Homo sapiens: one gene and its partners. The protein of the gene in region 1 interacts with the protein of each later gene in a biochemical or structural test. Each region holds a gene or a part of one and is shown on either strand. Other genes may lie near its edges. The genes, in order: ARHGAP32, NTRK1 and SHC3.

The links.
Region 2: the proteins of ARHGAP32 (region 1) and NTRK1 form a complex in vitro, tested with the Homo sapiens proteins (one study listed by BioGRID).
Region 3: the proteins of ARHGAP32 (region 1) and SHC3 form a complex in vitro, tested with the Homo sapiens proteins (one study listed by BioGRID).

The regions. Positions count from the first base shown.
Region 1 is NC_000011.10:128,969,838-128,982,481, forward strand, and holds part of ARHGAP32 (rho GTPase-activating protein 32), read right to left. Parts: intron 12,100-12,644; coding exon 11,992-12,099; intron 11,725-11,991; coding exon 11,579-11,724; intron 10,912-11,578; coding exon 10,716-10,911; intron 10,019-10,715; coding exon of another isoform or gene 10,012-10,018; exon of another isoform or gene 9,086-10,011; intron 9,079-9,085; coding exon 8,933-9,078; intron 6,798-8,932; coding exon 6,726-6,797; intron 5,166-6,725; coding exon 4,287-5,165; intron 3,596-4,286; coding exon 2,616-3,595; intron 1,323-2,615; coding exon 1-1,322. UniProt on the Homo sapiens protein: GTPase-activating protein (GAP) promoting GTP hydrolysis on RHOA, CDC42 and RAC1 small GTPases. May be involved in the differentiation of neuronal cells during the formation of neurite extensions.
Region 2 is NC_000001.11:156,877,865-156,882,350, reverse strand, and holds the end of NTRK1 (high affinity nerve growth factor receptor isoform 2 precursor), read right to left. Parts: intron 3,230-4,486; coding exon 2,989-3,229; intron 2,353-2,988; coding exon 2,194-2,352; intron 895-2,193; coding exon 709-894; 3' UTR 501-708; downstream 1-500. UniProt on the Homo sapiens protein: Receptor tyrosine kinase involved in the development and the maturation of the central and peripheral nervous systems through regulation of proliferation, differentiation and survival of sympathetic and nervous neurons.
Region 3 is NC_000009.12:89,002,646-89,010,837, forward strand, and holds the end of SHC3 (SHC-transforming protein 3), read right to left. Parts: 3' UTR 5,533-8,192; coding exon of another isoform or gene 4,873-5,532; 3' UTR 3,126-4,872; downstream 1-3,125. Other genes in the region: uncharacterized protein LOC124902206, read left to right, coding at 4,873-5,532. UniProt on the Homo sapiens protein: Signaling adapter that couples activated growth factor receptors to signaling pathway in neurons. Involved in the signal transduction pathways of neurotrophin-activated Trk receptors in cortical neurons.

The DNA of each region.
Region 1 (12,644 bases):
GGGGTCATGTTATCATATTGGGACATGACAGGCCCTTTCACCTTCTGCCGAGCACGGCTCTCTCTCCGGATGGACTGCATGCGGTATTTTTCCATGTCCTCAAGATCCCATGAGGTGTAGGTGTGCTTCACATCAGCAGCCGGAGGCATGCTGACTACATTATGGTCGTTGGGAGAGAAATAGCCAGTCACGTTGGCCCGGGGACGTGGAGCCAAACCAGCATAACTGTACAAGCTCTTTCCTTGCAGCCTAGGATTGTAGAAAGCAAAGTCTCGATTGGGAAGGCGGTGAAGGGGTCTCAACTGGACTGTGCCATAGGCATCCACATCACACAGGGCCCCATCTGGACTGTAATAGGAACTAGAAGAACTGGAATATGGGCTATACCTGTAGTGGACCCGGCCATTCTCAAAGTAAGGCTGAAGCTGAGTGACATGATAATCTGAGCGGGCCTGGGAGGACTGATATGGCTTATATTGGTACAGAGGTCTTGGGCAGTAGGCTGGCTCATCATCTGGGGGAACTTCTGTCCGTGAAATGGGAACAGAGCGAATCATGGAAGACGGCGGAGCATGGAGAGACTGCACTCTCCGGATGGTAGGGTACGGTGGAATGTCTTCGGGGTAACAGGTATTCCTGACAGAGGAGCTCAAAGAAGACACATACTCGACCCGGCTGCATGGCTTGGAGTGGTGTCCAGATGCGTTTCTTCCTGGGGCCACATATGTGTTATAACGAAGACCCATGGAGGCTGGTGGCTCTGACCTGGCACCATACACTTGGTGCTGCTCCAATTTATTGTGATGGGGAGGTACACTCTGGGGACGGTACTGGCAGTTTGGAGTCATATTGAAATGCAAACAGTTATCTGGACCAAAGGGTTCAGTGGTGACATCGGGCCTAGCAAAGGAGGAGTAAACTGTTTTCTGAGAAGCATGCTTAGGTTGTGGGACAGGAAGTGGTAAAGGCAATGCATCGTCCACAGAGGTGGATGAAGCAGTGACAAAGGAATGATAATTTGAACTGCTGGTGGCATCTGCACTGCTGGAGTGTATGGCAGCAATCATCTTACTCTCCATCATCCTGGTGGGGGGCAGTGGTGCAGGAAAGCCACAGGGATGCGCAGGGACAGACTCGGCGCGCAGGTGCAGCAGCGGGACCCGGGCACCGTCCCGCACTTTCTCAGGCAGGCCTGGCTGGACAGCTGTAGCCATGGGACACTGAGCAGCAGCAGCACCACTGTCACTGATGAAGGCAGACGCAGGGTCATCCATGGCTCGAGGTTCAGGTGGCCTCTCTGGAACTGGAACTACTCCTTGAACCTATTGAAAGATGATAATACTATGGGTCTATTTTTTGTTCCCTCTATGAATCAAGTACTATTAAATTTGTAACTCACAAATTAAGGCTGGTTGGGTAGCAGCTTGAACTTTCCCAAGCCATGTGGTTGCAATGAATCTGTACCCATTTCTAGGAAAAGAAGGCTTGTGCTGCTATTTTGTACAACACCCAGTATTATCTTTGGAGAACCATTCAAAGTTTTCTAATTTATGAGAGGTTTTAAATGCGAGATGAGGTTGCCTATGGCATAATTTTAATATACAAACCAAAAGAGAGGTTTAGTCAAGTAATGCTGTAGAGCTTAAAAATACATACCCGGTCTATTAGTCTAGCTCAGTCTCAACACAAAGGACATCTTGTTAAATTAAGAGTTAATTCTATCATCTGGGGAGACTTTTGAAATTCACAGTTGTACACAGTTAGCAGTTTTAGGGCTTCAAACATAGGGAAAGGCAATATTCAAATCAGAAGCTACTGCCTCTCTCCTACCTTTGATTCCACCTTAGTCTGGCCAAAGATAATCCTCATACTGAAAACATGCTATCCTTGAGAAGCAGTAAACACAGCATCCTCCACTAAGGTCTAAAATCTTAAGTCCTATTAATAGTTCAAGGTGACCATATAGAAGAAAAACAACCTGTGGCACTTTCTTAAAATATGAGGAAATTCAGGAAGAAACCTTAGCATTCTGCATACTACATTCTCTCATTGAAACAGGCACCTGACTATGGGACAAACTGCTGGTGAATGCTAGGAAAGTAACAAAAAATCCCAAGGCACTATAATCTCTTATACTTCCAAAAAGTCTGCAAGGCAGACAGTCTTACGAATGTTTTGAGAATGAAGTATTTTCATTGTGTAACTGTGAATAATTGGCAGAGGGTAGGTAAATGACTTGCCCAAAGTCACAATGAGTCAGTGATGGAGTTGGAAAAAAATAAGAAAAAGCAACCCACAACCGTAAAGCCCACTTTGTCTCATTTGATCCTGATCTCTTTGTGTTACTGGAATAAACTACCGAGACACTTTAGGAAGAAAAGGGAGCAGGTACAGTTAAGCTATAGTCATCTAGGAGCTACTCCTTTCCTGGGGAAAAGCCAGCATCAAGGTAATGGCAGACTCCAACCTCAAATGGGAACTATCTCATGGAAACCAGCCACAGGGCTTAAAAGTAATTGTTGTGTCTGACTCAAAGATAACAACACACCCTGCTGAAAAGTGACATACCTTTGGTAATAGTATATTTCATCTCACTGATATCTTCCCCTTCTTACCTTGTGGGAATTATTTAATCCTATATTGGTTGCTGCTTGTACCTGCCCCACAACTGGTGGCTGCTCTGCAGATCTCTGGGAAGGCGGAGGGGGAAGGGGACGATTAGTTCTGTGCGTGCGCTGAAGTGTGGCAGCAGCAAAATCAGCAGTGGTGGGTTGTTCAGCCACATCCCAGCTGGCTTCCTTGGTGCTCATTTGGGCTGTTGCTGGAGTAGTTGTCATGTAAGTCATGGTGGCTGTGCTGGTATTCTCTTCGGGGGACCCAGAAGGAGGGTAGATTTTATCGCTAGGTAAATTAGGAGGTGTGGGAGATTTGTCTGCAAATTCTAAAGGGTGATGGAGTTTATCCACACTTGCACCAAGATAAGAAGGAGGCTGATCTCCACTGTAGAAACGGGGTGGAGACTGGTCCTGATCCAAGAAGGAGACAGTTGGCATACTGTTCTTCCCAGACTGGTCTTCAGGGAAACTTACATGATCATCAGACTTCTCTGAGTCTAAGGGAACTGAAGTAATTCTGGCCTTTTCTGGGTCCCCAGATAAATATGCTTGATGTGGCTGATTCCCTGTTAAGTCTACTTGGTGATGTTGCTCCCCAGATTCAGTTGTGTTGGAATGGGTAGGATCCCCAGTAGCTGTTGTCTCTGGTAGAGGATGGTCACAGTTTCCTGGTGCATTATTCTGGAGGTGGAACTGCTCTGCTGGTCGATCGGTTTGGAAATAGGCCTTATCTAGAGCAACTGCAGAGTAAGAACTGGACAGATTATCTTCAGTTGTAGCCACCGCTATGTCTCCATAATTTGTATACCCAGCCTGAGAGGTCCCTGGTCTCTTCAATGACTGAGTTGAGGCTTGCTGTGCGGACTCAGCTAATGCTAGCGCCAACATTCGGGCAACATTTTTCGGAGGCGGTGGTGGTGGGATAAGAGAGACTGAACTGACAGGAACGGAATCCTGAGGGGGGTCATGGGTAACTGCTCCTAGTGGGAAATTGGGAAAAAAAATGAGAGTGAAAAGGTAGCTTACGTTATCCTAAATGGAAAGCCAAACACTCCCCATGTGATCATTAAAAAATAGGTGCCTTCCATATTTCAAAATGGCAATCCATGATCTTCTATCCCACATGCAAATGCTGTTGAAAACACATCTGGTTCAGAAGGAAAACTAAAACAAACAGTGTATAAAGACTGCAATCTCTTCTTGAATTGTTACAGAGATGGGGGGGAAAAAAAGCATGTCCCTCACCTGGCTCAGAAAAGATTGCTTAGAAAACAAGCTTCAAGTGCTTGTAGACTGTTATTATGAACAGTTTTTACATTTGATGGTGTAGCTGGCTTGTTAACTTGGAAGGCTACAATAAAGATATTTTATTAGAAGAGAAAAACAGAATCAAGAGCTACGCAGTTGTGCAAAAATTATCCACGAATTCTCACCGTCCAAAGAGATAAGGGGACTTTTGTGAAGATTTGAAGCAGGACCATTGGCCCTTTTGGGGAGTTTTGTTGGACTGCTTTTAATTTAGGGCTCTGAGCCATCAGCACCACCCAGAAAAGCATTCTCTTTGATTAAAGGCTAGCTGTGGACAAATTTCTCTCTTAAAAGGCACAGATGGCACACAGGATTGAAGATCCCTCTTAACTTAAAGAAAGAATGGAGGAAAACAAACGGTACCTGTCTGAGTCTGTCCAGAAGCTACAGCCTTACTCTGACTGCTTGAGACAGACTGATCCTCTTTCCCTGGCAATTCTACTTCTTCAGCAGCCACCTGGTCCAGGGGCTGGACTTCAGATTCATATGCTTCTTGGGCAACTGTCTCATTTGTTTTCATCTTTACTATCTGGGTGGGGGATCTATTTGTGGCATCCCTTTCTTCAACGCATTTGTCCCAGGTTGAAGATGATGCATTCTGAGCTGTGGTATTTGAGACTGTACCAATGACTTCTGACACCCGTGGTGGTAGGGTCACTGAAATTGGCTCAGATATGCTCATAGAAGGTGATTTGCTTAATTTCCGTCCTATCTTCGGAGAGAAAGCATAGACGACCTTTTCAGTAAAGGAGGATGGCTTAGATGATTTATCTTCAGTTGGGCTCAAGTCCAGGGTAAAGAATGGACTCAGTTTCTCCTGAAGAGGAGAGACAGGTTCAGAGCTTGCTGTGCTTCCTGGAGTCTGACATTGGCTACTACCTGTTTCTGCATCCTTTTTATTGGCACTTGGTTTATCCTTGGAGTATCCTGGTGAATCTAAAAAGGAAGCACCACTCTCCAGACATTCTGATTCGGCCTTAGGAGGACTACATTGAAATGACATTGGATCAAAATCCAGGCTGGCTACTCCAATGTCTGGTGGGCTCAAGTCAACATCCTCAGCTGAATGAGGAGACATAAGGGCTGGGATATGAAGCAGCCCTCCTTCCTCCTCACTCTCATTGTCATGAGGCAGATTATCATAGGAGTTACAGCGGTTCCCCAGCATTTCTCCATTAAAAGAGGCAGACAGTGCATCACTGGAAGATCTGGGTCTTCTGGGTCGGAAGAGCTTAGAATCACCTGGAAAAAATGAATAACAGTGTCAAAGTAAGAACATCGTAGATACAGAATGCTGTGGTAAGTCACCTACTCAGCACAGCAGTAACTTACTATCTAGGTGAAGGAAGTGTTACTTCTCATTTTCTTTCTGAAAATTCTTTCAGTGCACACAGATCATTTACACTTGAGATAACAGAACTCCAAAACCAAATGCTAAATAGCAAACATGTGATAGAATCAGAGGGCGAATGCAGTATTTCATGGTCTGGAGAGGAAAAGAACTCAGAATGCTTGGATTCTATTACTAATCCAACACTGATTCTTGGTGTGACTTTGGGCAAGTTTTTCATTTCTTTGTGTCTTATTTTATCACTGGCCTCATATGACTTATGAGGTGGAATTAATCACTTTGAGTGGCATTTTGAATCTATAATAGCAAAATGGATGTTTTTTTTGTGGGGAAACATCCTTACAATATTCAAATTTCTAAATAAATTGAACTTCTCAATTAAAAAATCTTCATAATCCCATAAAGTATTTACATATATTTAGTAAAAAATTCCTTTCAGATACTAAACAAGAACTTCATTTTTTTCTTTAAGAATAGGTTTTAAGTTTCCCAAGCAGTCTTCAAGAGTGGCAGAGAGTATTACATAATTTTACGATGTTGCTAAATATCCAACTGGTAAAAAAGAAACTCTCTATTCTATTAGGATTATTTTAATTGCCATAGTTAAAAAGTAATTTAAAGAGGCAGAAACTATCTTAATAAATATAAATATATTGGCCGGTCACAGCGGTTCATGCCTGTGATCCCAGCACTTTGGGAAGCTGAGGTGGGCAGATCACCTGAGGTCAGGAGTTCGAGACTAGCCTGGCCTAAGTGGCAAAACCCCGTATCTACTAAAAATATAAAAACTGCTTAATTATACACTTTATAAAATTATGCTCCCGGGCATGGTGGCGCATGCCTGTAGTCCCAGCTATTTGGGAGGCTGAGGCAAGATAATCACTTAAACCGGGAGTTAGAGGTTGCAGTGATCCAAGATTGCGCCACTGTACTCCAAACTGGGCAACAAAGCGAGACTCTGTCTAACATATATATATATATATATATATATTCACAAATGTATTGATCACCCATAAAATTAATTCCTTACAAATATCTTCTGCTTAACACTAGTATCCACCTAGCTTGCTGCATTGTTTTGTAGGTTATCTTGACTAGTTTAATTGAAAATCTTGGAAAACTCTTATGCTCCCATTGTAAAATCTAAAGGAAACAGTAATAACACAAGTTTTCACTAGATATTAATAAATATAAATAGTTAACTTGAAATATTTTGGCTACTTTTATGTAAACTGAATAGCAGTCATGCCAAAAATGAAAAGATTAAAGACTGCTTCCATGTGAAAGCATCAATGAATTTTAATCTGAATAATACTAAATAGACACTAGTATTCCTAGGAAATGAGTTAATAGCCTATTTATTAAGCACAGATATATAAAAATATACTCAATTGCAGTATTCCTTTATGCAATATATTATAGAATAAAATGACTGATGCTTTTAGTCTTACCATCAACTGCATGGAGAGATGTAAGAGACTCCTCACTTTTAGCTGAACGGAGGGTTCCTTCTGCCCTGCCACCTGAAGAATAAAAAACACATAGTGTGAAGATTTCTTATTTGTTACATATGTGGTTAATGGGATCGGTGTTTTTCTTGATACATTTAAACTTTTGAGAGTGATTAGCTGTACATTTTGACAGCAATTTAGTACTCTATTACATAATGTGTTATACTGCACATTTTGACAGCAATTTAGTACTCTATTATATAATGTGTTATACTGTTCTCAAATGGTTTCCCGTGTGAAAAATCTCTTTTCTAAAGGATTATGAATTTGAGCAGAGAGATTAACTAAGATGCTTCTTTCTTTTACATTTCCTAAAGACCAATATGATATCTTGAATGACATCATACTGGATTTAGAGTGGGCCCTACACCCAATGACTGGTGTCCTCGTAAGAAAACACAGAGATGGCCATGTGGAGATGGAGGCAAAGATTGGAGGGATGCTGCCACACATCAAGGAATGCCAGCAGCCACCAGGAGCTTGGAAAGGCAAGGAAGGATTTTTCCCTGGAGCCTCTGGAGCAAGCACAGCCCTGCTGGTACCTTGACTTCAGACTTTGAGCTTCTAGAACCATGAGGGAAAAAAATTCTGTTGTTTTTTACCACTTGACTTGTGGTAATTTGTTATGGGAACTCTGGGATACTAACACAGGTAACTTTACGTACATATGTGAATCTTATTCGCTAAATATCTTCATCCTCTTTAACCCCTTGGCAGCACTACGAACACTTTCTTTTTAACCCCCTCCTCCCCTGCTGAGGATAGCATGCATCTCTTTTTTTCTCTGCCTACCTTTGTAATCATTTCTTCTTACTCTCCTCTCATGACAATTCTTCCTTTCCCACCTTTAAACATTGCTTCTCTCCAGCATTCAGCCCTCAGCTGGCTTCTTTTCACTCTGCTCCCATCTCCTGAAATACCATTCTTAGTCTCCTGTCAGTTAGGTGAATCCCTACTTCTCCTTGAAAACCCATATCAAAGGTTGTTATTTCCTAACCACTAGTCCCTCCTCTACAAGAGTTGACAATTCCTACCACAACTGTCTCATGTAACTATTTCTTTTATTTTTTAAGAGACTATGTCTTGCTTTGTCATCCAGGCTGGAGTGCAGTGGCACAACCATAGCTCACTGCAGCCTCAACCTCCTGGGCTCAAGTAATCCTCCTGCTTCAGCCTCCGGAGTAGCTAAGCCTAGAGGTATGTGCCACCAAGCCTCGCTTATTTGCAATTTATTATTATTATTATTATTATTATTATTATTATTATTATTATTTTGTAGATGCAGGGCCTCACTTTGTTGCCCAGGCTGGTCTTGAACTCCTGGCTTCAAGCGATCTTCCTGACTTGGCCTCCCAAAGTGTTGGGATTACAGGTGTAAGCCACTGTACCTAGCCTAAACCACTATTTCAATAACTATGATTCTGCACTAAAATTTACTTTCTCACACGTATGACTTCCCAATTTGACTTGGAAGGCAGAGGTACTACCCTAATTTTCTATCTGCAGAGCCTGCTATCAAAATAGCTAGCACATGCTCTACATGATTGCAAACTGAATGACGAATTAAATGAATTGAACATTATACTTCTAACATTATCTAAGAAGTACTACTATCCTTCCTAGATTCAGAAGTTGTTAATATCAATAGAATATGGCTTTTAAACTATTTTTAAAAGAGTACTTTTTCGACAGTAATAGATTTATTTGATCTAATAAGATACTCTATTAATGAGACATCTAATAAAAAATACCTTCTTTAGTTAAAAGAGTTATAAACTTGAAAGTTATGTTGAAACAGTTTTGAAATTTTTTAGATCTGTAAAAATACAGATCAATAAATTTAGATACCATAGCAGTATTTATTTACAACAATATACAAGGTATATGTGAATTTAATCACATTTACACTATATATAATCTATATAGTTTCCTTAAGAAAAGAAATTGCATACTTCTACATATTTATATATAATTTATGTTACTCTTCAATTTAGGAATAAAGAATCGGTGAGAGAAGACACTCTGTATGTGTGACACAACTGTGAACACGTTATGGAAGCAGATCATAACAATATGTGAAGAACGTGCCCAGAACAACCGAAGACCATCATGACAGCAGCAGAAGTGAGAATCTCCCAGGCACTCACCTTTCAGAGCCATGGCTTTCATCTCTGAAGGCTCACTCTCATTCCGCTGCAGCTTTCGTTTAGAAACAGATGATGATTTCCCCAAGTTGAAAAAGGAACGCCAGCTACCCACAGGAGACTTTTTCATCTTATTTTGAGGCCTCTTTCTATGAAAGAGAAAAAATAATCAACATTAAGATAGCCATGGGTCTGTCTTTTCTTACAGAAAAGAAATGAACACATGACAGAAAGAACCAAACAGGCTGGAGAAGCATAAGTGAAACAGTAAGCAAACATCCACCTTCCAGACAGCACACTCTACACAGTGCAGCCAAAGCAGAAAATGGATAGTAAACATGCAGATTTTAGTACTAGTAAATATTTTCACAAAGATCATTTTTATATATATCTTCATATTTGGATCCAACCTCACAAACTGAAAAATAAGTGAAAATAAGACGTATCTGGGAATAGGAAATATTAAGTGTCCAAAAATAACACAGAGTTAAAGAAAATGATTTTAGGTGTGAGTAGAGAATAAAGGCAAACAAAGAAGACAAGGATTAAGAATAATAACAAACATATACTGAATGCCAGGCACTGTGCTACCTGCCTTATATGTAATATCTCCTTTAAATCAGATACAACCACATGAGGTAAGTACTATTATTCTCATTTTGCAGCCAAGGAAATTATGACACTAAGAAGTTCAAATAACTTCTTTAACATTATAAAACTATTAAATGATGGAGTCAGAATTGGAACCCAGGCCAATCTACATCCCAGTATCTACTCTCTTAACTACTACTCCATAAATAAATCTTTGAGTAAATTATGGAACTAGAATATAAAATCAAGATGCTAAAGACAAACTCAGGATGACAAAGTAAGAGTATGTTCCAACTTTTTGCTGATAGAATGTTTTTAGTCACAGGAAGTGAAAGGAAGTTAGAGGAGTATACTAAAATACGGGAAGAACAAATTCTAAAGTTATATTAGTACTACCCAATCCAGAGAATCAAAATCCTTACATTCATGTGTAATAGCCAAAGGAGTAGCAGAGACATCAAAAATAACTTTTACATACATTAGTCTTCCTACTATAACCTAGTAAAGAAGATACAGAAACCATGTTATTATCATTTCTTTAGAGTAATAGAATTTCAGAGCTGGAAGGGACATTGAAAGAGTGAACTGCTGCAGTGGTTCTCAAGTCCTAGCAGACATCAGAATCACCTGGAAAGTTAGATGAATGACCAGTTGCTGGGTCCCACGCCCAGGGTTTCTGATTCAGCGGGTCTGGGGTGTGACTGGACGACTGCACAATGTGCACTTCTAGCAATTATCACCAGGTGATGCTGATGCTGTTGGCTGGGAGACCACACTATTAATCTCTTCTAACCTTAATGTGAAACCAATGTCAAACAAGTCACTGTCCATTCCTGACTTTCTGAACAAACTCTTCCAACACAGCTTATTTCTAAACAACTTTATAAACAACATAGTTCAGAGAGCAAAATCAACCCATATAGTGACAGTATATCCTTATTTTTCCAAACAATTTTCCCTATACCACTGATGTTCTTCTTTTATAAAATTACATGACATTGTAAAGCAAGAATCATTTGCATCATTCCCCATGAAGCGGTAAGTATCATCCATATTCGAATAAACAGGTTTCTCTGGGACTAGCCTAGAATTCAATAGAGTAATACTAAAATACAAAATTAAAAGCAAACTAAAAGAAAATAATAGGACATAGCTATGAAAATCATATCCCAAAATAGGATTTAACAAATTTTACCTTTCAAGTGGGAACTCAATTATGGTATGAAATTTCCCCTGAAGTGCAGCAGGTCCTTCTCCTACTTCGATATATTTATTTTCCGTCACAATTGGAGAATTGACCTGAGCTTGTGTTCGTGCCTGGGCCTCTTCCAATGTCAGCAGTTTGGTGGATGGAGAGGATACCAGGAGGGACTTGGGCCTTGATAGAGAAGCTTCAAAAAGAAAAGGAAGCTGATGAAGAGAGTCAACTACGTGAGTGTATTCAATTTGTTAGTATCTATCTCTCCATCTATCTACCTATCTGTTGTTTCAAATTTTCTTCAAGTATGTTAAATAGCAAAAACCATAGTGCTTTATATTAAATGAAAAACTGAAGGGGACATACCAGTGGCACACATACATACATATAAAACCCTTTAATAACTGTTTTCCTTTCTTAAAAGATATGAGAAAAGCTTTATATTAAATAAAAAACTGAAGGGGATACACCAGTGGCACACATACACACATATAAAACTCTTTAATAACTGTTTTCCTTTCTTAAAAGATATGAGGAAAGGTGATCAATCACTCAGATATTTTTAGTTTTGGAAGCAATTTTTCTTCTTCTGTTCCACTTTATACTTTAATACACATCAATAATGAACGACAAGTTTTTTAATGTGTCATGAACTTAGATCACAATAGGTCTCATATGTAGTATTCACTATATACACACAAAATAACTGTCAAATTGTGCATTTTGGTAAGCAGCCATACATTATTAGCTGCCTTATACCAGTGACACGTTTTTGTTGTTGCAATAAGAAATGCATGGTTTGCTACTCCTCTGGAAGCTGAGACACACCCTCCTGGTAGGAAGGGCCATCGGAGCCGTACCTGCCCCCTCTTGCATGGCCATGCTGATTCTGCCGCTGAACAGCACATCAACGTGATTCAGGATGAACTCAACAACCACAGACTGAATCCTCACTTCCATGAAAGCTGCTGTTCCACTGAAGCAGGCAGATTCTATCTGTTTTGATCTGTGAGGTAAACATTTTCATCACAGAGTTGTAAAGATAGCAGTCGTCAAGGGCCTCTTTTTTTAAACGTGTAAATCTCAGACAAACAGAGGAAGAAATCATACTTTTACTGTCCCTTAGCTAAGGCCCAGTTGCCTGTTTTAGGGAGATGCAAATAAAAAGAACAGATTTGTTTAATCTTTTAAAAGTTTCCTTAAAGAACACTGATGAATCAGCCTTTTATTTAGGATTAGTTCTACTAAAATTAATAAGTGAAATGCAAATTACCTTAACAGGTTTGGAGCCCAAACAATTGCTAGATTTTTTGCATGCATATTTGTGATGGAACAATAGTCAGCTAGAAGAGACAAGTGTCTCATCAGGAACTCCAGTGTTCTGGAAATAAAATACAACATATTAACAGAAAGAAACATGATGCAGCAGTATAGAACATAAAAGCCTGCTAATTAATTCCTAAGTTTGCAATAGCAAAATGAAGAAAGGGACCATACAAACCCAAGAGAACTTTTTTTTCCTGCTTAACAGGTTGAAATATTACTATTAGAAGTGAATCTTCCACCAAAGCTAGTTTCTGGAACAAATAATATTTTGAAGTTATGCCATTCTACTTGCAGCAGACATACTAACAGGAAAGGATTTCAACACTTCTATGAAAGAAAACAGTAATGTCTCAAAAGCCTTAAAACAGTTACAAGAAAAATTCCAATAGGCATCAAGGGGAGAATATTTGAGCAAAGGATATGCTTTTGAAATAAAGAGCCTAATTCAAATCCTCATATTCTGGTTTATCTTGACTACTTAAAATTTGCTTTACTTAAACAATTCCACATATATTGTGATTAAACAATAGGGAAGAGTACTTTTGAAAACAAGACATGATCACCTTAAATGTAAGTTAAACCAGGTAAGTGCCGTGTGTG
Region 2 (4,486 bases), on another chromosome or scaffold:
AGAAGAGTAACAGAGGGGCAGGAACAAGGGGTCCTGCCTCCATCAATCCTTAGTCCAGCTCCGTCCCTTTCCTGCCCCCCATCACCCCACACACACACACACATGTTTCTCTCTCATCTGCTGCTGCGTGCTTGCTCTGTCCCGGACACACCAATACAAGGAAGACACCCCATCAACGCTCCCATCCTACCAGTACATCTAACTTCCACCCCTTCCACTATAGCCCAGCCTTCCTGAACATGAACTACAAAGATTGACAGTTAGGCTCTCAAGGTCTAGGAAGTTTGACCAGAGGCTGCCTTACCAGCAGGTGAGCCAGGTGACCATGGGAATGGGATCCAAACTATAGTCAAAGGTGAGAGTGACAGGTCCATGGAGTAGGGGTAGGCAGCTGAGGGGAACCTGAGTGGGGGAAGATCCCAGAGAGCTGTCCCCCTACCTGAATCCCAATGCCTCCCTCCTGGAACGACGTCATCCCAATAACTGGCAAGAGACACAGCCAAGGGATAATAAATATAATTGCTATGACGGGACCTTGCCTAGAGAAGCAGGAACATCCTCTACTCCCAGCCCCCACCTGTCCCTTCCCACATGCTGAGGGTGAATTAGATACTTTGAGATCACCCTGGGGCTGCTGGGAGCTATGGGGGATGCTGAGGGCAGGCCCCAGTATTCCGGCTAACCACTCCCAGCCCCTGGGCCGGCCCCCTAGCCCAGGACATCCAGGTAGACAGGAGGTGCCTGGGCCAGGGCTTGCAGCCGGGCGTGCACATCCTTGATGCTGTGGCGTTGCTGGGGCTCCCGCTGCCAGCAGCCCCGCATGATGGCGTAGACCTCTGGTGGGCAGGCACGTGGCCGCTCCAACTCACGTCCCTGCGTGATGCAGTCGATTGCCTGGGGCCACCGGAGAGACAGAGGAGAAAGCCCACTAGGCTGGGGGCAAGAGAGTGAGGCCAGTCCCAGTGCCCTCACTGAGGCTCCCAAGGCAGCTCACACTACTCGTCTGGGCTTCTTAGCTGCTAATAACCCGAATGGACACAGTCAACCCCAGGATTCATTTCTGCTCTGACACTGAGAAGTGAGAAGGATTAAGGCTCGACTATGGGAAGCTTGGGCTGGGGTAGGATTGCTTCCAGAAAACTGGGATCAGATCCTAAGAAGACTTGCCAGGTGGGTTGAGGAAGGCGAGGGGCTGAGGTATTTATCAATCCATCAGCTTAGTGTTGGGGGCTGAAAGGAGGAGGAGAAGGGCCCTCTGACTCTCAGCTCCAGAGAGAGAAAAGAAAATAGAGCAGAACTGCAGTTAAAGGGCGTGAAAAATAGCTGGCTTTCATTTTAAAGAAGAGGGCAATCCTTACTTCTCCCTTCTAGGGATACCACTCTGTGGGACTGACTAGCTCTCCCAAAAAGAAACTGCAGCAAGAAAGATCAAAGTTAGACTCTAGGAAGAACTGCTAAAGCAGCCAAGGAATCCAAAGGAGAAAGGGTGGCAGGGAGTGATTGGAGAAGGGGCCTGGAGCCTCTTTTCCCCTTCTTCCCCCCTCCCTATTAGAGGACTTGGGTTATGGGCGGCACTAATTCCATTTCTTCTCTCAGTGCTTGAGAAAATTAAAATCTATAACCCTCTCCCCCACCCCACCAGCCTCCGGGGAGCAGACTGCATTAGGAGGAGAAATGGAAACTGACAGCTGCGAGCCAAGCAGGGGGTGGGGGCAGCTGCTCTGGGAGACAGAACACCTGGGGCCTGCTCTGGCTGTGGCCAGCTAGGAGGGCAGGGGGAGGGGGTAGGACTGTCCTTCTGACAGTCTAACCTCCAGCCGTCCTGCTGCAGTGTTGGGCCTTCTTGTGCTGGGTTCCTCTTCCCGTGCTGGTCCCTTCCACTCTGATAATTCCTGCTTAGGTCTATAAAATGCAGCTAGGGATGGGGGTCTGGGCTCCTTGTACAAAGCACTTTGAGGTTCCCCCAGGGGCCAACTGGGCCTGGGCTTAGGACAGTAGGTGAAGGCAAGAATAAGGGAGGAAGAGAAGAAAAGGGCCACAGTGGAGGGGACACAGTGTGGGCACGGCGCTGGAAAGGGCCCCCCAACAGGCTGTGGCAGAGGGGCAGAAGGGGAACCGAGTTCCCTGAAAAAGGAACCTGAAGGGGCATGGGACGGGGAGGCCAGCAAGGGGTGACCATGGGCCGGGGCTGACCTCCGTGTTGGAGAGCTGGTACCAGGGCTGCTTGCCGTAGGTGAAGATCTCCCAGAGCACCACGCCGAAGCTCCACACGTCGCTCTCGGTGGTGAACTTACGGTACAGGATGCTCTCGGGCGGCATCCAGCGAATGGGCAGCATGGTGCGGCCTCCCACCTGCCACGGGCGGACACTGCATCAATTCCAGGGGCGCCTGGGACAGCCCGTCAAGGCACAGCCTACCCCAGCCCCATCATTAAAAATAAATACACAAGCTCGGTGGTTCACGCCTGTAATCCCAGCACTTTGGGAGGCCGAGGTGGGCAATCACGAGGTCAGGAGATCGAGACCATCCTGGCCAACATGGTGAAACCCCATCTCTACTAAAAATACAAAAATTAGTTGGGCGTGATGGCGTGTGGCCTGTAATCCCAGCTACTCGGGAGGCTGAAGCAGGAGAATCGCTTGAACCAGGGAGTCAGAGGTTGCAGTGAGCCGAGATCGTGCCACTGCACTCCAGCCTAGCAACAGAGTGAGACGCCGTCTCAAAAAAATAAATTAAATAAATAAATAAACAAACAGTGGTGGCTCTCAGGTCTAAGAGGCAAAAACCGAAGGTGCTGTTTCCATCTGGGATAGCGAAGGAGACAGAGCCCCCTCCACCAGGAGCCGAGGAGGTAGGTTGAAAACCAGAGCCAGTGAATCTCAGACCCATGCAGCCATCCTAGCAAGGGCAGGCTCTCAGTGGTCTTGGGATCCAGGGTGTCTACAGTTTGGATGCAGGGGAAGGCGTTGGGGACAAAGGACCCTTACACGGTAATAGTCGGTGCTGTAGATATCCCTGCTCATGCCAAAATCACCAATCTTGACCACCAGTCCCTGGCCCACTAGACAGTTGCGTGTGGCCAGGTCCCGGTGCACAAAATGCAGACCCGCCAGGTACACCATCCCCGCAGCGACCTGGCTAGCCACGGCCAGCAGCTGCCCCAGACCCAGGGGGCCTGGAGCCACATCCTCCCCACCAGCCAGCAGCTTGGCATCAGGTCCATGGGATCTGTGAACAAGAAAAGGAGAGGGGATAGGCTGGGAGGATAGAACTCCCAGGAGCCTGAGGAAGGCGATCCCCAGCAGCCGCGTGTGATGGGAGAGGAGACTGGGGACCTGGAAGTGGAGGATTGAGAGAACAGTAGAGGCAGCTGTCCAGAGGGGTGGGATGGAGGAGCGGAACAGGTGTGCCCACCTCCAGGGCTCCCACCAGAGACAGCCCATGGTTCCCACATCCATGCCTTCCTCTCTGGCAGCTCCTTGAACTCCAGATGCCCACTGGCCCCTACATCCCTTGCCATAGGCATGTCAGACTCAGCCCTTGCCAATTGGAGCTCGGTGTCTTTCCCCAAGCCTGCCCCTGCCTCAGGGAAGGGACCCTTCCCACCCAGGCAGACCCTGAAACCAGGGAGTCCTTGATTGTCCTGTCTCTCTCCCCTCTGCCCTCAGTGTCCAGCCATTCCTACGGGGTCTTCCTTCCTTTCGAAGGTGTCCAGGATGCCCGCCTTCTCCCCAGAGCGAGCACTCGGGTCAGTCCTAGTCACTCATCCATATTCCCCAATGTTCCTTCTCCTGAACCTTTGCCTGAACTGATCACTTTGCCAAAAATGCCCTTTCCTACTAGCCAATCTTCTCCTCATTTGTTTAGTTGAGGCATTTGTTAAACATTTCCAGTGTGCCAAGCACTGGGGCTACAGTGCAGAGTATGATGCAGATAAGCAGGTCATGGCAGTGCAGTGTGAGGGGCACCTGGCAGGCACCACGGGTGGGAATGGAAAAAGCCAGGGAAGGCTTCCTAGAGGAAGGGACACCTAAATTGAGACTCAAGTCCTGAAGCCATTCGAAGGGAGCTGAGGCAGGGAGGGGTAGAGTTTGTGTGTCTGTCTCCATCTTTCTATGGAGGGAGGGAGGCCCAATGCCCCAGGCAGAGGGAACTGGAAGTACAAAGGCCTGGAGGGGAGAAGGAACAGATGGTCCCTCCTAGGGGAAGTCTTCCAGACTCATCTCTGAGCATTAATGATTCCCTCCATTGATTCCCCCAGTGTTCCATCCAGCAGTTAGAGCCTCGTCTCCCACAGCCTGGGCCCCAGATGCTGGTATCTCCCTAGCCTGTGTCCCCAAGACCAGCACTGAGCCTATGCCATGTCTGGGAGCAAAGAGATAGGCTCCTCCCTGGCCTTCTTGGGCTCCTCTGTGCCTATCCTCCTCCACACTCAACCTTGGGTCTGGCCTCGCCTCCTGCTCCACACCCTGCATGGGCTCCCTC
Region 3 (8,192 bases), on another chromosome or scaffold:
CAATGCTGTGTGACCCTCTCCGTGTGCCTCTGAATGGTGTTTTGATGATTTTACACTACATTTCCTGTGCGTAGAATGGATGCTTGTATATTCGTACATCTCTATGTTACACAGAATTTGTGTTGCAGGTGTTTGCCATGTGGTACCTACATAGAATCTCCATACAACACACAGGTAACAGGTTATACAAGTGGATTCAGACTGAACCCCCAGTACAAGGACATTGTTTTGAACTAGGTGGACATGCCATCCCTGGTCTCCTTAGACTGACATGATTCTCATGTTAACCAAGTTTTAAAAGTTCAAATTCCCCAAAAAGGCTTGTCCAAGGCTGGCCCCAGATGTGTGGGTCTGACCCACACCAGCCCTGTGTCCTGTCCTTTCAGTCATTTGTCCCTGCGTAATTTTAATCGTATTCCAAAGCCCAATTATGTGATGGTTTTCAGGTTTCTGCAAATTACAGAAGAGCCAGCCAAGATCACCCAGGAGCTTGTGCCCCCAGATGGGCCAAAGAAAGAGCCTATGAAGGAGAAGCAGAAGCAGACGGCTGGCCTGGCTCACCTTCCCACGCCAGTGGGGCAGGGGTCTGCTTCAGGAAATGGAAGCTGTCCAGGAAATGAGCAGAGATTCACAAGACAGCACTTTGATTCTATGTTGAGTTTGTTTCTATATTAGAAAAGCAGCAAGTCAGTAATCCCCCGTGGCATCACAGCTAAGTAGCTGTGGCCACCGGCAGTTTCACAGCATCCTGAAAGCTGGCACTGATCGTGACTATCAGTGAAAGAAGTTTAATTTTCAGGTTAGAAAATGTGATCTGGCAGTTTATGCATTCTTCAGAGTAATGTAATAATACCTATGTGATGCTGTAATTTTACTTTTCAACATAAGTTGAACCCGTAGCAGTCTGTTTACCTTGTAAAGGGATTACTTAGAAGACATTTTTGTACATGCTCTTCCCCAAGGATTGTACGTATTATACAAATAGATGGAAAGAAAAGTGAACACGTTTGTAGAACTTTCATAAGCACACAGTTGCTGTGTTGAGTTCTCTTTAAAAACAAGGACAAAACCAACCAGCGTTCAAAGGAACCTCCCATCAGAGTCCCCTAAAGTATTTTAGGTTCAGTGAGCATTTGCCTGAATAAAACCTAAAAGAGTAGTCTTAACACATTACTAACTTTTTCTAAGAGAAATTGATTCCTGTTTTGTCATCTGATGCAATTTGCTCTTATAAAGAGACATTTTCATAGGTTCAGAGTAACTCACCTCCATGGGCTGACCAAAGGCTTTTCTAATTTTTGTTACTGATGAGATGAAACCTATTTGTAAGGAGATCTTCCCCAGGAGCATTTCTGTTGCCTTCTTGACATCAATGAAAAGTAGCATATTCTCTTATGAAATAGCATGAGAAAACACAGGGCATTTCTAGGACAGTAAAACGTTAAAGTACTGGATTAAGAAAACAACAACAGGCTGGGCGCAGTGGCTCACACCTGTAATCCCAGCACTTTGGGAGGCTGAGGCGGGTGGATCACCTGAGGTCAGGAGTTTGTGACCAGCCTGGCCAACATAGTGAAATCCTGTTTCTACTAAAAATACAAAAATTAGCTGGATGCGATAGCACGTGCCTGTAGTCCCAGCTACTCGGGAGGCTGAGGCTGGAGAGTTGCTCAAACCCGGGAGGCGGAGATTGCAGTGAGCCAAGATCGCACCGCTGCACTCCAGCCTGGGTGACAGAGCGACCCTCTGTCTCAAAAAATAATAATAATAATAAATAAAACAACAACAAAATGCATCAGAGAGCCAAAACATTCAGTATTGCATTTTCACATAGGTGATGAAATGACTTTGGAACTTTATCTGTGTTATAGTTATGAGTTGCTTTGGGAGACTTGGAGCTCTCTGTAGCTATTGTTCATAACACTTTGCTCCATAACCCTGATGTCCGCAGTATCTAAGTATCTCAGCCTTCATCCATTAACTCTACTAGGGAGCCCACAGCCACCATTTCCACTAGGAGGTATCAATATTTGTGGTATGACATAAGGCTCCCTTGAAATAACAAGACTTTTGAGCAATCTGAATTAAAAATACATCAAAAAAGTAATAGCGCTCATTTGCTAAATGCAAAAAATAATCACCTTTGATACCAATGTGCACCAATATGCCTAACTAGCTAGCCAGCTGGAGATAATTTACCAGGGAATGTTTCAAAGCCCTAACCTTGAAGTTTGGAAACAGGTGGTCTTCTATGCTGCAGAGAAACTATGCATTAGGTCTCTTTTCAATTAGAAACCTTTACTATTTCCAATGTATGTTTGTTAAAAATAATAATAATAAAACCAAAAGCCTTTGTGGAAACCCACTCTTCGTAGTCCATGTGATGGGATTGTTTTATCGTTTTCACCGGGTGCCCTCCCCACTGCAGGGGTGCGCACTGTTGTTGCAGGCTTGCTACCCACCTGTGTTTCTTAGCATTTCAGGAATTAAACCACATTCAGAACCCCAAATAACCTTTCCCCTTTCTTCTTACCCACTATCATAGGTGGTATTTTAATGAAGCGTCTGTGCCTTGGGTGCTATTTACACCAATTTTGGTAGGTCATACTATTTTGAGAATGGTCTTTTGATAGGGAGAAATTTCTAAGACCCATGGTAATAAAAGTGCAGCTCAAAGACATGGGACCTCTTGTCCTGCCCCATTTGCTGTTGTTTATGCAGCAGGAGAGAATAGGTCAGAACCAACCTTTGCACACTAGCTTTCTCCCACACAAACGGTCCATTTTAGCCTCTCTGTCCCACTTGCTATGTAAAGAGGAGGCCAGTGCTCGGCATAACTGTTCTGGTAGCGATGCTTGTTACAACTCATGATGAAATGTCCCAACGCAAGTGAGGACGCAGCTGCCCGCCCCAGAGCTAGAAGGTAAGGTGAGTTCTCTAGGAGTACATCTGCCCGGATGCATTTTCATTCCGCAGCCTTGATGAATGGGACGAGGCTTTGTTGTGACTGTTTTTTAAGCAGTCCCCCAGGGAATCACTGAAAATACCTACTTCTTAGAGAAAAGTTTCAAGCTCCCCTCCTCTCTTTTGTGAGGCAATACAAAATCCATCATCCAAATGAAAGATACTTTTCACAACAGCCTTTATTGCCTGCAGACTTACATGTATAGTCCTTTAAACAATTAACTGTTTAGAAAATGGTTGTTTCTCTCAACCCTTGAGCCAGTTATTCCACGCTGGTAAGACCCTTTCACAGAAATGTAACAAGGTGCATTTTATAGAAAACATCTAATTAAATCACCAGTTTCATGCTTTTAAGTTGTATCTACAAGTGCAAAACTGCAACACCCAAATGTTTTTAGTATCTAAGTCAGATATCCAAAAGTTAGCTCCATAATCAGAAATGCGCACACCACTGTTCTGATAATAAAGGCACATTTTCCAATAACCAATTATAACAAGAAGTGCAGCATTACCTAAATTGGGTGTGTCATCTTCCCCTCCTGGGTCACAGGATGACACCTGGGGATGCGATGCCGTGCCTGCACTTGGCGATCCCAGGAGCACAGAAATGCACCAGACAGATCATGAAGGGCTAATGCTTGGAAACCACACCATTTCCTGACAGAGTGAAGGAATCCCTGTGGATTTATCAAAAGGGAGGAGGGAATTTAAGCTAATTCTCTTCACCTGCTGTATTCTCAAATCTCCAAAACACCAGATAACTTAGGTTTTTTCATTTGTCATAGAACAAAGATTAGAGAACTTGAAATTCGTTTTGCATTTCCACTCCTCAGGGATGTCAAAAAAGCCAGTTCTGTTCCAGCACAAAGTAGAAAGTGGTGAATTGGCAATACGCCAAGACATAGACTGTTACAGTAATTCTTTTTGTTTCACAAAAGTTAATGGAAACAAAACAACTTTCAGATAATATTCATTTGTCAGTATGTATAATTTGCCATCCAAATGCTTTTTAAAAAGTTATTATCTTATTATTACACATTAAATTTACATGGAGTTGTCTCCTAATCCTGGGATTTTAACACCAAATGTTTAATTCTGAATACAAAGAAACATTCACATACTTAATTTTACAATATTCTGGAACAAGTTATATTCAAAAGTCAAATGAACAGAGAACATTCCACTTGCAACCAACACATAGCTGTTAACAAAATTAACCCCATTAATATTTAAAGACGGATTTATCCATTAATGCCTGTTTTAATTGTCACTTGATTTTGATGGTTAGAAACTTTGGTTATGGTAAAAATGATCACATGAGTGGGAATTCATTACCTCAAAGCTCAGGACCACAGCTCCCCATGTGCATGTTTTTCTGTCTGCAGTATTTCAAGGTGAGACAACAAAATAGACACCTAAAATTGTATGAGATTTTATTCCTGGTGCTTTTTCAGCGAGAACCATTTTTCCAGACCTAGGGAAGGAGCCTGTGTGTTTTTGGCCTGAAGGATTCATCAATTCAGAGCATCTGTGACAGCCAGGAGGAGGAAAGAAGGGAGGCTGGGATCACCTCCCGCCCCTTCTAGCATCTCTACTGAGAGTGACAACTCCAGGCTGTCCACCCCCATCCTGAGCCTTCCACACTCTTCTCCGTGCCACTAACACTCAGTATCTGACGCCTGCAGTGCGAAGCCTCCAGAGTCCCCAGACTGACCTGGGCACTCCACCCTTGCTGGTTCTACTTTACTTGGACACACGGGTACCTTAAGGCTTGTCACACTCCAACACCTTTGTGTGTGTGTGTCTTTATTTCTTTCTAGGTTATAAACTCAGGCAGAGGCCTCATACATTCACTTCTCTATCCCACCATCCCAGTACAGGGCCAGCCACATATTAACTAATGCACAAATGAGGCCAAGAAACTGGCTAGAAATCCCAAGAAACTGTGCCAAGTATATGCAGCTGCACCTGGGAATACACGAAAGCATGACATCACGAGCACAGCCTCCTCCACCACACCTTCCCTTTCTCCTCCTTCCCTGCTGGCCTCAGACAGCTATGCATGGCTGCATGAAGGAAGATCTAAATCTGGACTTGTTTTATCCTCCCCTTCCCTTCTTCTCACCTTTATTCTGCCTCCACCTTCTTCTTTCTTTGTCTTCCCCCACTGGCTTCTCTGTCATTTCCCACAGTGGGTTCCCCCAATCCCTGTGGTCCTCATGTCCTGTTCTTGTTCTCTTTGTGCTGGATCTCACATCCTACAGCATCCAGGACCATCCTCCATGGCTGATGCCACAGCCTGCCAATTCCCAAATTCTTCACGTTTGTTTGACTTCCTACTTAGCTGTAAAACCAAAGCCCAGGGAGGAGTCCCAAGGTGCACAACACAGAGCCAATCTGCGTGTGTACAGAGATGCAGATCCGTTTTTAATCAATGTAAGTATATGCGTATATGTATATACATATGCAATTCACATTCACAAGTCCTGGTATAAAGTTGCAATTTTTCTGGCTGCTATAAAATGTGCCAGTTTTAAAACTGTGCATTTGTTGCTTGCAAACTTATAAATATGTATAAACCCCATTATAAATAAATTATGGCTGGCAGATGGCATTTAAGCTGCCAGCAATGGTTGCATGGAGTTATAAATGCTTATTAATTCTCCACTTTTAAATTCACAGCACGGACCCTGGGATCTGTGACATGAAGTGGTGTGAAAGCATAATTATAAATTAGAGGGGGGAAAGCCATCAATAAGAGACAGGTAAGGGCTGGAAACTCTCACTAGTGAGTGGTTCTCAAAGTCAAGACTTCAGAGCAGCTGCACCAGCATCACCTCGAGATTTTTTGAAATGCAAATTCCCGGGCCCCACTCCAGACCTAGGGAGTCAGGAACTTGGCGGGGCCAGGGGGGTGGAAGGGCCTGCAATCTTTGTCTGAACCAGCTCACAGGGTGGTTCTGATGCCTGCCTTCCACTCGAAGTCTGCTTGTCACGAACGCCTGTCTCAGCTCAGGGACATCCCCGGCTTAGGAAGTATGCTCAGGTGTGTGCAGGGCCAGTCAGAAATTGTTTCCAGAAACAGCCTTTCATAAGTGATAGACTTGGTGAATAAATACCCCAGCTGTCTCCCCGCCTTGCTGGGTGAACTCTGGGGTGTCAGCTCTGTCTCTCGGGGTTCCCCGGTGGGATTCAGCTCCAGTTGTGCACATGACGGTAACTTACTTGATAATGCACGCCTTCCCCGTCAGCTTCCTTCTCTCCCTACTTCCGGGATCTTCACTCAAATAAACTACATAACCTCAAGTCCTCTCTCAGGGTCTCCTTCTGGAGGAACCCCAACTAAGAGGAAGTAGAAACACTGTCTCTCCCATCTGAATGACTCAGGCTTTTATGCATTTTGAGATGGAGCACAGATGTAGAACCCCTGGAGGGAAGCACTGCTTGCCATTTCCGTGGGGCAGGGGGCTAGCTTTACGTGCAGGCCCAGGACTGTGAGTCCTGTGCTCTTTTCTAAGTTGATCCCCAGGCCCTTGCATGGCTCCAGTTTCCTCTTCTGAAAAGCAGGGCCCCCTACTGGGCTGTCTTACCAAGCTCCCTTCCCTGTGATCCTGTGTGGAGCTGACAGTTCTAGGTTGGCACTATGTCCAGGAGTGGGTTTGTCCTCTTCATCTTTCTTAGAGCCAGCTTTGAAAGTTCCATGGGAGAACCTGAGTATTACTCTGAAACCCACTGCAAGGTCTGTCTGAGTCCTGCAATGACCTCTTTGCAATCTTTCCACAATCTTCCCACTCACTCCCAATCCTACTGTCACCGTCCACAGAAAGGGATTTATGGACAGCACACAAAGTTGGGCCAGCGAGAGAGAACCAATGGGCACGCTGGGAATGCACAATTTTAGAAAATCATTGCGCTTATATGTTTCATATATTTGTCAATCCCCAGCACGCCCTCAAGCTGGGAACATGTATAGCCCTGCAGTGTAGAGCACGCCAAGGCTCAGAGAAATCCAGCAACCCGCCTGAGTCCACGCCGTTCTGGGTGTGCCAGGGTGGAGGCTGGATGGAGGTATCTACTCGTGGCCCGCATTGCCTCTGCCCTGGAAAGGCCTATAGTCCGAGGCTTCTGCCCAGCTCAGCCCAACAGAAAAGAAATGTGTGACTGCCTTCAGGTAGCAGCCAGTTTGGAGGAAATGAGGACCCAGACGTCCATCTTCAAGCATTGCTTATAGAAAGAAGCTACCCAAGTGTCGGACGCTACTGAAAAGGAAAGCTTTATTTTGGGAGCTGGGGGCCACCTTCAGAATCCCAGCACCAGACATGGAGGTTGGGCTGGACACACATGTCCACTGTTCCCCTGGCACATGGGCCCTTTAGGGTCCACCCTTCCCTAGGCCTGTCCTTCCTTTTAAGTTAGGACTTTACCTACACACACGGCTTGTCATTTCCCGTCTTTATTAGAAATTACCCACAACTTCCTCCACCTCCAGGAGGCCCTAAAGAAGGCCATATATGGCCCAATCAGGCCTTTGTCCATTATCCCAACATCATAGATGGCCTGACAAAATAGCTGCTCGCTCATCAAGGCTGAGCGGACGCCCAGTCTTTGGGTGCTTCAAATATAAAAAACAGCAACAGTGGTGTCTTAAGCACAGGATTAAAGATTGAGTCATTTGACTGCGGTGTTTTTCACCTCCCCACCCGATTCTCCGGTTAGCTACTCAGAGGCAGCCTTGGAGGTCAAGAATCAAAGCTGACTTAAACCACAATGAGCACCCCCATGAGAGGCCCAGCCGGCCTCCGTGGGACAGAGATGTCATTTGAAGCACAGCTGATTCATTCGTGGGGTTAGGGGAGGTGGGTGGGGGTCTCTAGGGCCACTCGGTAAGGGCAGAGGGGCCGTTTTAGGACTGCTGGCCCCCACCTTGTACTCCCAGAAGACATAGAGTTTGGGGTTAAGTGTTGGGGGTGCCCATTGGAGGGACAGCAGGGCCCAGGTGCACTCTGCAGGACCAGGGTGGCCCAGCACAGCAGCAGCGACTGTGCCCTGGAAGCCTGAGGCCCTGGAACGCAAGGCCTAATGCCATTCCCGCTGCGTTCATTGTTCAGCTTCCCTGCCCTGCCCAGGCAGAGATGTGGCCTGAGAAAGTGTGGGGAAGAGGGGCCCAGGCTAGACAGGGAGGAGCCTCCATTGCTTTTGCCTTGGAATCCTGAGCTCAAAGCACAGGC